2 separate regions of the Homo sapiens genome follow, and region 2 is linked to region 1. The links come from fine-mapping of genetic effects on gene expression. A gene starts in region 1. The other region holds a variant in brackets. All regions are shown on one strand. Distances are between the middles of the regions.

Region 1 (8,337 bases):
TGGTGGCACCTGGCTAGGAAATTAATCAGATAAGCCTGTGATAACTCTCAGGTGGTCAGAGTAACATGCAAAGCACTGATCATTGTGGATATGTGCAGATTTGAGTGGAGAGTCAAAGAATCATAGAAATTCAAGGCTGGGAGTCAAGTTTTTAGGCTGAGGGATATCACAGGGGGCTAAACTTGACCGGTCTGCACTGCCCCTGCCAGACCTCCACGCCAACCCCATTGGCATCTCTTAGTTCTTGCTGGGAACCTTTCCAGGCCACGCACATGAACTGAGGATGCCAGCTGTCTCATGTAACAGGAATTCACTCCTGGCTGGTAAAAACACTGAAAAGTACAATGCCCAGATGTTACTGTACTAGCTCAGTGGCCTTGGGTGGTGTTTGAATACTAAGATGAGAATGGGATCTGGACAGCCATAAAACACACTCATTCTAGGAAATCTTGGGCTAGAGGAATGGGATAACATAAGGCCTGGAAGGAAACCTGAAAATGGTCCAGTCCAGCCATTTTGCTTTTTACAAAGGAAATCTGAGCCCCAGGGAAGTGAGATGGCTTGCTCTGGGCTACCCAGTGAAATCTCTGACTGTGTTTGGGACTGATTTGAAATAGATGGAGACTTAAAATCTGCATTATGACATTTAACCAGAGGGCTTTTTTTTTTTTTTTTTTTTTTAATCATGGCCAATTGTGTTGTTGCACGGTCATGGTTTCAGCCAAATCTGATGTCTTAAAAGCTTGTTTCCAGAAACTTCACCATTCCCTTCAGGCTTATGGCAAAAAATGGTCAATGAAAGCACCCAGGGATGCTGCAGATGAGGCTGGCTTTCTATGAGCTGCATGAAAAGACTTTTCCTATAACAGTAGGGAAAAAAAAGCCCAAGCTGCTTAAACTGTCACAACCAATCACAAACATATTTTTTTCCTGCAAAAGCTGGGAAGACTGCAAGCTAAAATAAGAGCATGACTGTGGCAATTTAACCCTCCCTCCCAGTCTGGCTCTGCCAGCCAGCCACCTGCTCCCAGTCCCCTGATTGTGAAAAAGTAGACTCAGTTTGTACCTGTTGGAGAAGTGATTGGGCAGCTGGACGACCTCAGTGATGGCTTCAGGGTTCCGCTTGGCGATGCTGCACACATTCAGCTTGCTGTAGCACTCTTCCTGCACCTCAGCAATCATCCTTTGGAAAGTGGAGCACCTCCGAATGGCGAGGAAGACCTTGGAGGTGACCCCGTTGGCGATGCATTTTAAGCTCTCTTTGACGAATGCTTTTCCCTGCCATGGAGGAAGGACAAGAGGGAGGTCTTTAGCTTGACCTGACAAAGAGGATGGGCATATACATGGAGGAATTTAAGGGGGCTCATCTGGGCAACGTATCATGGCCATCTGCATATCCTTGCAATGAGAAGATTGCATGTCTCGGCTAAGGATTGAAAAAAAAAAAAGCCCTCTCCCCATCTCCCTGGATTCCCTTGAGAATTAAGCTCTACCGAAATGAAATTACAGAAAAAAAAGATGAACCGTGATCAACCATTCTGCAGCTTAAAAATAGTCGTAATCTGACTTCATATTCTTGAGATTGAGACTTTGAGAATTCAGATCAAAAGCTAGTATGCTAGGTCATGCAGAGAGAACTTCCTTGCTCTATGCACGTTTTTATGTCCTCTTACAGAGGAAAATCTTTTTGGCTTATTACCCCTGGCCTTATAAGACAGCCTCTACTAGCTCCTTAGAATCATGCATTAGAGTGAGTGGGGCGTGTCTTATACAGAACCTATTTCCTGGCCAGATGAGTGCCTCTGTGTGTGTGTGTGTGTGTGTGTGTGCATGCACACACTTGTGCATACACATGCTGAGATGGGAATTTAGAGTGGGGAAGCTGAGAAGCAGGGCTGGTTCCCTACAAGACTGGTTCCTAAGAACCATGGTCTAACACACTGTTAAAGACAAGCAGCCAGTGGGAGCAGGGGTCAAGGTTTTATTACCTGAGTGTCAAATTTAGCAGCGCTGTACAAGAAGGATTTACAGATGTCATACATCCCATCTGTGTCACAGGTGGAGTTTTCCAGGCATGCAAAAGCCCCGCAGCCGACCTGTAGAGCACTGTTGAGGCAACGAACCACTTCAGCTGAAAGAGACAAATCCATCCATTCTGGGTCAAACAGTGAGGAATGGCTGGGTGGGATCAAGTGGGTGCAGAGGTGAATTTCAAGGACATGAGGTCAGAAGAACTTATCCTAGGAATCTGTCATGAGGGGCAATTGATAGACCCATTTGATTGAGAAAGAGAGGATAGACAGGCTCCTTTTGTTTATGATTGCTGGAGTACATGATGGACAGGGAGGGAGTTCTCTGTTTCAGACACACGCTCCCTGTTTCACCATTACCTACAATTTTGGTGTCTGGAGAAGTGAGGCTCAAGTCTGGAAATGCACAGTGCCTTTAAGCCATTCCATAGAATCAAAGGTCATTGCTTAGCACTTGAAAGCATGGGAAGGAAGGAGACAGTGGCTAGTGGTCAGGTTTAAGAGGTAAAAGGGCCAGGGAATCCATCTAGCTTTGGAAAAATGCACTCCCGAGTAAAAAGCATGGGATTTTAGTCTAAATGGCAGAGAAGACTGTGCCAGGAGTCCACTTGGAGACCCTTCTGATTTCAGGCTTTTAACTTACCGTCATATTGGCAAAAAGAAATCTGATCCGTTCATGTTTCACCCCAACCCTCCACTAGGACAGTGCTTAGAGGTATGCATAATCTCTTTCATATTAAAAGCCTTTTAAAAAAGAAAGAAAGAAAGAAAGAAAGAAAGAAGAAACACAGGTGTGGAATAACCAGGCCAAGGCCTCCCTATGCAAGACTGGAAGAAAACCGCAAAAAACTTGCATGAGGCTTTCTACATTCTGGATAAGATCTCCCATAAAAGTAATTTTTCTCCCACAGAAGGGGGGTGTTCTGGCAGGCAGCTAGGCAAGGAATGATCTGCAGCCTTCATGCCATAGGATTCTCCTCTGAGATCAAAAGCATGGTTCAGTTAGTCTTCCCCACCCCCTCCCACCACCCGCAGCCTCTAGGATGTTACAAGTCATTTCCCTAATTATATATTTCCACGGGTTTAAATTATAACTTTGCTTTAAGCAGTTTTAATATGCATTAGGGCTGCTATTGTTTTAGGCAAGCTCGAATTGTGAATCACTGCATCTCTATAGCAACTAAGTACAAAAGGAAGTGAAGCAAAAGCCCTCCTCTCGGCAGGGACCTGTGCTCTTCCAAGGGGATCATCATCTGCAGCATTTTGACACCTGTGATCCGGTCTTTGCTGACAGTTGGAGGACAGAGGGCAGTATTGGAAGGGGAACAAGTGGAGCCAGAGAAGTCAAGAGGCAGAGGTGTCAATGCAGGCTTCCTAATGATTCTTTTCCTTCAGAAGCCAAGATAATGCACAATTAACTGCTCCAAGAGTCAAGACGAAAGTGAGACCTTACCCTTGGAGAAACAGCTGCTACGTTTCACAATTTTTTTTTTCTAGGGGCTCTCTGGCTACGGGCTGCAGGGACGACTGAATGGAGCCCTACAGAGCCAGGAGGGAGACAGGCAGCAGGGTTGGGGGTGGGATGTATAGGGTTTTCTCTGAATCCGCCCTGGATTTGTCAGACTTGAGGGCTATGGTTCTGAAAATCAGTCTGAAGAGGGAGCTTTTCTGTGTATTCTCTTAGGTAGAGAAGTCAAGAAGTGAAGAGGTAGAGTCTTAAGAGGAAAGGAAGAGGGACAGCATCAAACAAGCCAGGTCTTACCTTAGATCAGCTTCTGGAAAGTATAGAGAGCGCTTTGAAGCATGCCAACATTCAAGCCTTTCCTCCCCTCTCACCCCTCCCCCTCCAAGAGGGTACGTGCCAGATTTCAGGCAATCAGGCTAGGCTTATGCAATGAAATACCCTCAGCAGAGCGTCCAGCTTCTTCGTTTAGTTGCATGCAATTTATTAAACAAAGGAGCTCCACTGCCTAAGGCTATTGGATTACACTGGCAGTTTATTGCCATCAGGCATGAAGCACATTTATTATCAAGATCAGCCGTCACAGACACAGTTGCAAAAGGGAGAGGCAAATGAGGACAGCTCTTTGGGGGAGAAACCGCTCTTGGGTTTGCTGCTTACCTGAGTTTTGAGCCGCCACTCGGGATTTCCTGGGGCTCACAGAGTCATTCTGCTCCGCCTCATGGGTTGCAGAAGCACTGATCACCAGCACCAGAAGCACTGCTGAGTTTTGGAGCATTCTCTGAGAAGTTTCCGCTAAGTTGTTGGGTTTTTTTTTTTTCCTGCCCCCCTTTCCTCTTTCCCTCTCCTGGCTTGAGTGAAGATGTGGATCTGGATACACTGAAAGCTTAGGTGAGGATTTGATGAGGATTTTTTTTTGTTGTTGTTGCTGGTGATGCTGCTGCTGCCACCGGTGCCTCCGCTGCTGCTGCTGCTGCCGCCGCTGCTGCTGCTGCTGCCACCGCCGCTGCTGCTGCTGCTGCTGCAGTCGCTGCTTCTTGCACCTCTGGCTTTTGCAAACTGGGGGCCCAAGAGCTGCACCCAGGGATTTTATAGCCGTTCTTATCGGTCCTCAGGATCAAGGACCAATCAGGTCCCTCAACTGGTCTGGTGAGCCAATAAGAGGGCATGCAATTCAGCTGGAGCTTTTTGACTTCTTAGAAATATTTTCCAGCAAATTAAAAGTACCTGCTGCCAATGTTTTATATGTGTGTGTGACTGTGTGTGCAGAGATGTGTGAAAAAGCTATTTTCGTGGAAGTAAGAGATAACTCTGTATTGATTGAACTAAAGAAAAATCCTATAGAAATCTCTCCAAGTTGCTTTTTGAAATCTAGCCATCTTTTTTTCTAATGAGCCACTTGGGGGAAATGGATAGCAGGGGTATGGTGGGGAAATGTGATCTCTTTAGATGAGAACTTAACCTGCTTACAGCAGTTTTACTCTAATTTTAACAGCACATTCTCGGTTCTGTTTTGTAGGCTACAAATGCAATAACTCCCTATCTTCTCTGTGTGTACATGTTCACATGTCTATGATGCATTTTTGTTTGTATGTGGACATCCTGGGTTCTCACTCACACATTTGAGCCCTTGAGGGGGAATTTATGTGAGTGGAAAAGCCTTGGGGGACTGAGATATGACAGCTCAGAGCTGAAGCCTTAGTCCCCCTACTGATCAACCTATGACTCTGGCTAAGTCTTTTTACCTTGCCCCACCTCGTTTTCCCATCTGTAAAACGCCAAAGTTGGACTCTGACATTCTGTATACCTCTAAAATAATGTGATTCTTCAATAATCAAATCAACTTTGACTTCATCTTTTCAGTCACCAGCAAAATTGCATAGTCCAGGAGTGTTAGTTACCCCAGGTACACATGTGCACACCTGCACATACCACACTCAACAGGGAGACATCATGAATGCCTGAAAATTAATAATCTGTGTTCAAGCCCAGCAACTTTATAACCACTTTGAAACAATAAGCTGGCCAAAGCAAGACTAAACCTGCTGAATGGAAACCAGTTCATTTCTTGGGGAGAGGGGTAGGAAAAAAGGGGGCAGAATGGAAAGAAGGGGTAGAGAAAGACCAGAATGTGTAGGAGAGAAGAATGATAAGCTCTAGACTTAATAGGAAAATTGCACTGCAATCACAAATCATGCCTGGTATAGAAACTTATATTTTCTTATAAGTGAGTTGTAGGCAATGCTGAGGTTTGTCCCCAACATGTGAAGGAGGTTAATGAGCCAGAAGAGGACTTCTTAGGGTAGGAAGGTGGTGAAGGTATTATACAATAAAACCTTTAATAATTTTGGGGAAGTAGATGAGAAATGGCCACTGGTGATTCATACAGATTTGGGCAGGATAATCTTGCAGAGAAATGGGGCCAGTGGCTTTACTTTGCATCCTAAAACCTTCAAACAAAAGTTGAAGAAAGAGTGCCACCCCTGTTAACCACAAACTAAACCAAGTGTCAGCTCTGTGTATGTTGTGGGGTGATAGGGTGGTGGGGGGCGGGGGGGGGGGGGCGGCGGACGGTTCTGGGTGATGATAGCCTATCCCTCACAAAATAGGGTTGTTTGGTAAGTATGAAAGTTTGCTAGAAAAAGGAATAGAAGGAATAAAGGATACAGGAAATATCTAAAAGAAAGGAAGGGAATTTTCAGATTTACATTATATAACAAGAATACATTTTAATTTATATTAACAGGCAGTATTGGTATTTCTTTAGAACCTTCTGGGCTGAGTGCTAGGGGACAATGTGGGAGGATAAATGAGAAGACATAGAGAAGAAGGTAAGTTCATTATTCTTGTCCTGAAGGTACTTACAGGTGAGTTGGGAAGATGACCAGCCACAGTCATACTTCCTAAAGGTTCGGGATGTCAGGACCTCATATAGTAAGACACAGGCTCAGGCAGCACTGGCTGGAGATGGGGGGAAAGCTCTTGAGGGAAAGATCAGTGGGGAAAGATGTAAACTGCTGTTGTTGCTTTTTAAGAATTTAGGAAAAGCTATGCTATTTCATTTTTAAAAAACAAAGCTTGTATTGTGGAAAGCTTCAAGGTTATTTGTATTGCTTTAGTTAGAAGTAGTAGATGCCAGGCAAGGCAATAGAATTTCTCAGTGCTCTCTTCCAGAAAGGGAGTAAGAGGACAGATGCGTATTCCTCCCAAGGGTCTTGACTTCTGTTCTTTAGCATTCTCTACCTCCTTGGCCATTATTCATCATCTAAGGCAGTGCCATTTGTTTCTCTTGGGCTTTCCCTGAGTTGGTCTGCTTGGCTTGGTAGGGTGATGATTTACCACCAGCCATCTACTTTGTTTTTCCAACTCTCCGTTGCTCTCACCAGAACACGATGTCCTACAAGCATCAAGATGTGTTTGTGTTTTTTTTTTCTGATGTTGATTTATTATTCCTTCTTATTTTGCTCACTTACTATCTTGTGCCTGGAAGTTCATTGCTAGGTGTGCCAAGTGTTTCCCAATAACAGGTAAACTGTCCTTTGAAGAAATACAATAGTGGTCAGCCCATTGATTTGAATGTAACTAGTATGCATGCCAATGCATTTGAGAACCTTAGGGGAAGGAGCTGAAGTCTACATGAAATGCCCAGTGTAAAATTTCTGCCTAGAATGTCATGGTATGTGGATATCCAAGTGCCCTCAATCATTGTGCAACTGTCTGGAACTGTGATATAGCAAGATAAAAGGGTCTTGGGGGCCCTGGTGGTGATGTCTGGTTTCTTTGTAACTTCTCTTGGGGGTCTGAGAGAATATGGAGGAGTTTGCTTAGCGCTCTTCACAGTCTGAGTTTTATCCTGTAAGGAACAGGAAGTTATTCGGGCTCTTGAGTAGGAATTGTTAAATGATGGGTGGAAATAAGTGTTTAGGCAAGATTATTTCATCATACTTATGATGGTTTGGAGGAAGAAAAGAACAGAAGTTTTAAGACTTGTTAATAACAGAATTTTGTTGATGAGATTCTGGCCTACAATGGTTGTGGCAGGAAAGGAAGGGAGACAAATATGAGAGATGTTTTAAATGAACTGGAAATTATTAATTAACCTAAGGATTGTCTTGGGAAAAACCTTTCTCCCAGTTTAGTGGTAATGGAGATAATACACATGAGGACTTTTCCCTCCTTATATTTTAGTTATGACTTTTAGTTGACAGGACTATCTAGTGTCTCTGTTAGGCAGGTGCTTTCTGGCATACTGTTGAGCAGCAGAATTACCTAAAAAAAGGACTTGACTGCAATGTGCGCCCAAGTGCGCCCAAGTGCAGTGGGTGGGAGGGGAGGGTATACTTTGCCATTGCCCTGAGCAGGGAAAGTGCTAAGAAGTTGGTGGGAGAAGCTGCCAACACCTAAGACTGGGTGATGATGCCCTGGCTGTGCCCGTGCAAGGCTGGCATGAGTTCAGTGAGAAGATTAAGCCAAAAGTCTCTGGGGCTTTGTTGGATTTGGCTAGCTTAAAGCTAAGCAGTGAACAGCTCTTTGCCTTTTGGTGAGAGGAGCCCAAGAACAGAGCATGTTTTCTTGGTAAATGTTCGTGTGTGTGTGTGTGTGTGTGTGTGTGTGCGCACGTGTTTGGCTAACAGAATGCAAGACCCACCAAGGTTGTTTTGGCATAGTGACCAAAGTTGGACCATTTTTCTTTGGGAATTCTGAGCCTGTGTTTTTTTTGATTGGACTTTGGGCTGTTGATTCATGCCTTCCTAACCTCAAGACAAAGAAGAAGAAGAAGGAAAATGAGGAAGATGAGGGGAAAACATTTTTATTTACTCTTCTATAAAGGCACCAGATTATCTG
Region 2 (8,337 bases), 53 kb before region 1:
CTAGCCAGAAAGCTGACAACTGTCCCACCTTGCAAACATAAGCCACAAGACCACTCTTGTCGGCTGGCACTTTCCTTCCCACCTCTTGGACCTTCCAAATTCATCCATTCTTTGCAGCCCAGCTCAAATCTTTCTTCCTGTACGACACTGTCCCTACCTATTCATCCAGCCCAAATTTGTTATCCTTTTTTTGTCTCTCCCTTGAAACCCATCCTATACTGACTCACACACTGACTCTTGTTGTGACTCAGTGAGTTCAGGCTGGTAAGTCTTGGTCTTCTGGGATGTGAGCTACTTCCTCCCAAGCAGGTGGCCAGGGACACATCTTTCCCGTGCATCCTCCTTGGTGTTGGGCACAGTGCCCATAAGAGGGTGGAATGCCCTGGGGTTCCGTGCACTCAGGGCCTGCAGACTGCACTACAGGAGCAGCGTCACAGTTGTATAGAGGCTTTTGTGGGTAGATGGGGGAAAAGGGAGATAGCTAGGGATGTGAGCCACATGCTTTCAGCATGTCTAAAGACATATGCCATCAGTGCCTGGAGGAGAGCCCCAGTCAGCCTATGTTCCCTTTTCTGGCAACTGCAGGTCATGGCCTTCTCTCGTCCACTCCCTACAGCCTCATGACGACTCTCTTCCTCTTCAAGAATGGCGTGGATGTCTATTGTAATTTGGTTTTCTATCAGCTAAAAGATGGTGAGGGTGTGGTTCTCCCTACTGTCATCTGCCATTTAGCACATGGTTAAGTACCTTGGTTTGGAGTCAGTCTAAATCTGCCCTGTCCAATGGGGTAGCCACTAGCAACAAGTACAACTTAAATTTAAGTTAAATAAGATTGAATAAAAATTTAAAATCTAGTTTTCCAGTTGCAGCGATCACATCTCAAGGCTCATTAACCACATAGGGCTAGTAGCTACCCTATTTATTGCACAGGGCAGATATAGAACATTGCAATCATTGCAGAAAGTTCAATTGAACACTGCTGGTCTAGGCTGGGCTCAAACCCTTGCCCTTCCACTCATTTTCTGCACGATCTTCAATCAATTACTTAGTATTTTGGTGTCTCAGTTCCCTAGTTTATAAAATAGAGAAAATAATACTATCTACTTGGCAAAATTGTTGAGATTTAAATAGGATAATCCATGCAAAGGGAGTGTCAGAACATAAGAACTCAAGGTAAGTTACAACAGCAGCAACAACAGAAGCTTATGTGTTGGCCCTGTTGGATCTGAATTCCAACTTCCCACCACAAAGAATAGCTTTGACACCAAATACAAGGTGGCCTCTCAATAAATACTTAAATGTATGAGCTGAATTGAAAGGGAGTTACATGGTTGCTAGACCCAGTAGGCTCTGTTGGGTCAAGACTGAGGTTTTCTCTGTGTACGTGCAGTTCCTTGGATCTGCCTGTGAACCAGAGGACATTGTGATGCTTTCACCTTTTCGGAAAGGACAGTAATTTCCCTGATTGTGGGCTTTCAGCCAGAGGTGAGCATGTATTGACCCTCTCCAGTTCTCTCCCTCTCTCTTTTTAAAAATTTTTTATTTTTTTCCCACACTGAAAGCATATTCCCTCCTGAGAGGAAGTTTGTTTTCCATGTCCTGGAAATGTCAGGCTCCCCAGAGGGCTCGAGGGTGGATCTGTCTCAGTCAAATGTCTGTTCCTCTGATGCAGTGGGTGACCCCCCCTGCTTTCTTGAATGACATCAGCTGAGCCGTAATCAAAGTGCTCATGCCTGACTCACCACGCACTGTGGAGAATTGACTTCCAGCATAGCGGGGTGGGGGCGAGGTGGAGGAAATGGCCCTTGGCATGTGAATGACTTCTTGACTTTTGACTCAGACAGTTTCAATTGTGGTCAGGCCTCAGCATTCCCGTGCATCTCTTCATTGCCTGAGTCTTCTTGACTTAATTCTTTGCCAGTTTATAGTAAACCTGAACATGGGAAGCCCATCCTGGGCTTCACAGATCACTGCAGAAGGACTCGGGAGGACCAGGTTGCAGCAAGGGGGAGCTGGGAAATTAGAATACTTTGCCGACTGTGCCAGATGCTGGCTTCTAAATTGTAAATTCCTAACAATATACAGGAGCTGAAGCACACGAGTCCATGCATTTTGGCATTTGGTGATGACTTACTGGGGGAGAGAAGGCATAGTTTGTGGTTTCAGGAGCCAGTGTAGCATTAGGAGCTCACCTTGAATTGCTTTCAGAAGCAGAGAGATGTCAGCTGTTTCCCAGCCTCTCAGCCATCTCATCTCCCTTGTAATTATAACTCATTGTTCCACTGACTTCCTTTCTCATTGGACAGTGTCTCAAGGGTGGACCTGTCTCAGGGCAGGGCTTTCAGAAGCAGTCCTAGACGGTGCTCAAACATGTGTGCTGGGATTTTCCCAAAGCTCCTTAAAGTCTGACGGCTGAGTTGTCTAAGAGCCAAACCAAGCCTAGCAAAAGTGAAAATTCATTTAACATCAGGGCTCTCTCTCTACTGAAACAATTGATAGTTCATCACCTCATCCATCATCTGAAACTCAGCACTCAAAACCTCTTTTTCCTCCTGCTTTCTAGTGCATGGAAGATAGAATTTTTCACTCTAGGGTATACTTTTTTCTAGATATTGACTTATTTGGGTCACTTGTTATTTTTCTGTAATTTTAAAATTCCAGCAAATTTTCAACGATAGTCCAGAGAACTTTTATGTACCCTTCTTTATCAGATTCATCACCTGTTGACAATTTCCCCCATTTGCTGTCTTTTCCCCCAACTTAAAAATTATGGTAAAATACACATAACATAAAATTTAACATCTTAATCATTTTTAAGTATGCAGTTCAGTAGTAGTAATTATATTCATAATGTTATGCAGCCATCATCACCATCCATCACTCCATCTGATAACTCTTTTCATTTTGCAAAGCTGCAACTCTATACCTATGACGTGATAACACTGTGTTTCCACCTTGCCTCAGCCCCTGGCAACCCACCATTCTACTTTCTGTCTCTATGTTTTTGGCTACTCCAATTTTCACTTCACCATTTCTCTGTCTCACCATTTCTCTGTTTGTCTCTCGCTCTGTTATCTGTCTCTTGTTCTGTCTCTCTCTATATATACACATACATTCCCTTCGAGAGTAAATTGGAGACATTGTGCCTTTTAACTCCTAAATACTTCAATGTGTATTTTCTAAGGATACTTTCTTACATAACTATAGTGTGGTTATTAGAGACAGTTATATTTAAAAAATTATTTATATTTTTCTAGAGATGGGTTTTCCCTTTATTGCCCAAGCTAGTCTCAAACTCCTGGGCTCAAGTGATCCTCCCACTTCAGCCTCCCAAAATGCTGGGATTATAGGCATAAGCAACCTTGCTCAGCCAAGACTGATTTTTAAATGGAGGCACTAACATTGAGATTGCATAAAGCTTAAAAAAATATGTTCTTTATACCTTTCTTGAGTGTATTGCTACAAAACCAGTACAAAAACCAGCCAAGCAAACAAAACTCCCACCCGTGTATTAAGGGCATACTATATAACCAGCAAGATGTTTGGAGCTGTGTCCAAAATGAGGAAAATATAAGATGCTGATTTCTTAAATTTGAATTTTATTTTTTATTTCTGTAGAGATGGAGTCTTCCTATATTGCTCAAGCTGGTCTTGATCTCCTGGGCTCAAGTGATCCTCCCACCTTGGCTTTCCAAAATACTGGGATTACAGGCATGAGCCCTAGCTAGGAAAATAATATAAACATGTAAAAAGTTAAAAATCAAGGAACTATTTTAAAAGAGCATATTAATTAGTTAAATGCAGATTCTTTGGGAAAAATAATTTAAAATACCCTTGGAACAACCATTAGCAAAATTGTAAATTCGGTATAAAAATAATTCCTCAAACTTTATTTTTTGGCTGTATAAATTCCTTGGATAATTATAAAATTGTAGCAGGATGTTGAGATAATTGGCAGTAAAGTTTTGATAGGATTGGATTTTTCATAACTTCAATCAAATCAGGATATGGAGCAAAAAACTATTCCTTGTTTTAGTAGACAAAGCCTCCAATTCCCAAAGCAAGGGAAAGTTGTACTAAAACTCGTGTATAGTCTTTAAGTGTCCAAAGGATTGATGGAAAGCTAAATGGAAGCCTGTTCATTTTTGTAAGTCTACCCCTCTAGAGCCTGGTTCCAGGCACATACTAGATATGTAGTATGCGTTGTTTGATGAAAAACAATGGACCGTATTTGGAGCCAAAGACATGAAGCATGAATACATATCCTGGGGGACAAGAACTTTGGATTATTTATCTTCAGCCCCAGAAGAAGAGGTGCAGTGAAACTGCATATACTATTTTTTGGTTTATTTTTGCTGATACTTCTGCCTTGTTTGGTGAGAATTCAAAGAGGAAACAAGTGTCTGGAACAGGGTGCACACTCACCCTCACTATGGCCCATGTGCAGAGTGGCCTGGCCCTCACAAAGAACTCGGATGAACAGAGAGAATGTATTATTTGAAATGGAGGATGATCCCAAATACGGGTTGGCCCCAGTGCATGTTCAAAAACAAGACAATTGGCTGAAATACACTGAAGAATTACAAGATGCTGACCTAGAATGGGAAGCTTGAAATAATAATTAGGGCAACAAGGATAGAATCAAAAGATTGGTGACCCAAGGAAGAGGAGTGAAGGAACCAGGGTGAGTCTGAGTGAATAATGAAGACAGGATGTGGCATGTGGCTTTCATGTATTCACAGTGAGTCTGCATAGGTGGGCTTGAGCCATTTTGGGTAAAGGATGGAGTAGACATAGAGTAGAACTTCATAAATGTCCTCTGAAATGAAAGACAGCTGTTCAGTACCTTATTATGTAGGTCATTAAGAACCACCAAAGAACCTCTGAACTGAAGTCATCCTCTGCAAGGATTTGTAAGTATATCTCACCCCTACCCCTCAGATGTGTACAGGATTTACTACAGATGTGGTAAAACAGCTATTCCCATCCTGAATTTATAAACTCAGGAAGATAAAAGTCATAGATATGAAATGTGAAAATGGCATTCTACATTATGGATGTCGATAATTGCCCCCCCAACAGCTTCCTTATTGCTTGTTGTCATGTTACCCAAAGTAAGTCCTGTCTCCTCACTTTCTTAAGCTCTTCTT[G/A]TTTCTTTGTCCTCCACCCCTAGTTACATTTGCAACTTTGTCATCACCAATAATTACATCTCCTTAATCTCCATCTCATGCCTCCCTTTCTTTGACCAACGCCTCTACTCTTCTACCTCCCTCCCTCTAGTAGTCCAACACCAATGACCTTTCTATTCCATCAGACTTTCAATCCATTGGTCCTACCATATTTTCTCTGCCTTTCATCCCCTTGCTATCATGATTCCCTTGCTATCTTGATTCCTTCTTCACCTATCTTAAATTCCATGTTCAATTGTTATAACCCTTGCATATGTCTTTGACTCACTTTCCATTTTCTCACTTCATATATTCACTTTGACAAACTGCAACCTTGATTAAATCCAACTTTTTGCTTGGCGCCTGTATCTGTGCTTGGAGAAATGCAGTCGGAGGAAAAGATATAATTACACTGGCTAGTTGCACTTTAAAATCACGACCTTGACTCTAAAATAAACTTTTTAATGCAGAGAAACAATTTTACTCTTTGTCCCTGGCCAATGCACACTCTCATTGTTCTGGAATTGCTTCATGATTTCTCACAAACAGTCTCATTCCATACTCCCTCCCATGCAACTGATTTTTAAATTGAATTTTATCAAAGTAAAACAGGTACATAGTTTAACAAGTCAATAAATAATACTAGGTAGGTAACTAAGAAACAGTAGTTCTGTGCCAAATTTCCTTTCATTCCCAATTCCCATGGTAATATTTTTAACTCTCTTGTTTTTTCCCCCATAGACCATTATTATACTACCATTTCTTATTTTTTCAGTGATATAGTGCCTCTACACACACACTCATGTTATTCTTCTGACTGTTCTCGCATTCTTCCAGTATGTTTTTTTTTTTCAAAATTTTTGGTTAAGTCATTTCTCAATGTTTATATTATTACTATGTAATTAATATTCACAGTTGAACTTACAAAGTATGCTAGGACAACATTTTTTCTTTTTGAAAAATAACTTTTGATATTTTTCTTGGAATTAATTATTGCCACTTCTTTATTTGCAAAATTTTCTTTGCATCCGTTGTGAAATCTCTCAAACTTTCCCCTGGAATAGACCAGAAAATCTTGTCTGAGTATGTTTGCAACCTGTCAGGTATTCTATTACTTTTATTTTCTTCATGACTACCTAGTCCAGAAGCCTCCTGCATCTGTTCTAGTCAAGCTGATTTCTCTCTAAAAAGAAATCTAGAGAGACTTCTAGATGTGTCTAACTAGAGCTGCTATCCTGGGACTTCTCTTCACTCTCATCCTGTGAATGCCTTTACCTTTCTGTGTAGGAGCCTTGTTACCTGGTTTCCCTGTCCTTCTTCTTCCGGCTTAACTTTTCACTGAGGAGGAATGAATGGGTCAACAAGTAGCTTCCTGGAAAACGTAGCTGGGAAGACAATTTTGGGGGCATATTGAAACTCTGAAATGTCCTTATTTCACCCATGTACTTGACTGATAGTTTGGCTGGGTACGGAATTCTAGATTGGCATCAATATCCTCTCACATTTTGATGATATTGCTACATTGTTTTCTACCAGTTTTGCTAATAGGAGTTTTAATGACAGTGATATATCTTTTGTAAATGAACACTTTCTTTTTTCCACCATTCACATAATTTTAGGCTTTCATCTTTGCCCCTGGTATTTACAAATGCCACACGATGGACCATTATACAGAATATTTTTTCATCGATTGCACTGTTTTTTCAGTGAGCTCGTCCAATCTGGAAACTCATATTTTTCAGTTCTTTGAAGGTAGTACTGAAATTATAATAGCATTGTTACTCTTTATTTTCCCTCTTTTTCTTTTCTAGAACTCCTATTAGTTGGCTGCTATATATCCTGGATTGATCCTCTAGTTTCCTTACTTACCTCACAAACTTTCTTTCTCTCTTTTTTCTACTTCCTGGGATATTTCCTCAACATTATTTTCAAACACTTTTGTTGGATTTAAATTTTTGCTGTTGTATTTTTAATTTTCAAGAACTCTTTTTTTTGGTAACAAAATATTGTTTATAGTTTATTTTTTAAATTGATAAAAATCATATAAGTTGTGTACAACCTGTTTTAAAATATATATACATTGTGGAATGGTTACATTGAGCTAACATATGAATTACTTCATATATATACATAACTTTTTGGTGAGAACACTTGAAATCTATTCTCTTAGCAATTTTCAAGAATACAATACATTGTTATCAACTATAGTCACCATTTTGTATTAAGAACTCTTTCTGACATTCTGAATGTTTCCCTTTAGTGTCCTATCGTGTTCTTTTTCATGGACTTCTTTCATTTCTTAATTTTTGGAGGCTATCAGACCTAAACTATTGCTATTAGTCCTGGACACGGCACACAAACCAAAAATTGTTGGCCTGGCACTGTGGCTCATGCCTGTAATCCCAGCACTTTGGGAGGCTGAGGTGGGTGGATCACCTGAGGTCAGGAGTTCAAGACCAGCCTGGCCAATATGGCGAAAACCCATCTCTACTAAAAATACAATAAGTAGCCAGATGTGGTGGCTCACACCTGTAATCCCAGCTACTCAGGAGGCTGAGGCAGGAGAATGGATTTGACCTGGGAGACAGAGGTTGCAGTGAGCTGAGATCGTACCACGGCACTCCAACCTGGGCAACAGAGCATGACGCTGTCTCAAAAAAATAAAAATAAAAAATAAAAATACATAAAAATATTGTTAAACAGCACATGAGTGCCTCTGTCCTTTGATAGTTAGTGCTCAGTGCTGGGCGTGAGATATAATTTAAACATTAGTTCTCATCACTCCAGGGAAATAATTCTTCACCACTCTTGCCTTATGTCTTGTCTCAAAACTGAAAAGAATTGTTTTTAAATGCTGAGAAGGTTTGTGGGTGGTGTCACTAAAGACATGAGAGGACACTGGTTAGATGAGTGGTGAGGATGTAAGAGGTGGCAGCACTTATGTAAATGTAAAACATTTGAAATTAATTTGTTAAATCATTTTCTCAGATAGCATGAATGCAATAGATTCTTGCATAATGAAGTATAATTTTCCAGTAGCACCTGGTATCCATTTCTGGTTTCTCTTCAGGTTTTAATTGTGGTTTCAGAGTTATTCACGGATTGACATAATATTTGCTACAGTTGCTTCTAACAGCTGAAGAACATTTTCAATTTTAAACAAAAATGC

Direction of the effects. Positions count from the first base shown, and alleles are read on the strand shown. Sizes are in standard deviations (SD) of each study's normalised expression.
As copies of G replace A in region 2, the expression in breast of the gene that starts at base 4,553 in region 1 goes up (small effect, 0.19 SD a copy in GTEx).

Evidence for each region. PIP is the estimated chance that this variant, and not a neighbour inherited with it, causes the effect.
Region 2: its variant is the best candidate, but not a certain one, in a credible set for the expression of STC1 in breast (GTEx, PIP 0.54).

The regions. Positions count from the first base shown.
Region 1 is chr8:23,850,254-23,858,590 of GRCh38, forward strand. STC1 (stanniocalcin 1) reads right to left here and starts at 4,553. Exons shown (of 4, transcript NM_003155.3): 1 at 4,153-4,553; 2 at 1,989-2,131; 3 at 1,067-1,278. The coding sequence starts at 4,270.
Region 2 is chr8:23,796,848-23,805,184 of GRCh38, forward strand. It overlaps LOC107986930 (a long non-coding RNA gene), which reads left to right. Exons shown (of 5, transcript XR_001745842.2): 5 at 1-6,095. Among named protein-coding and RNA genes, the nearest start is that of STC1, 54 kb to the right of the region's middle. RefSeq lists an enhancer at 1,265-2,464. The variant G/A (reference allele first, on the strand shown) is at 5,151.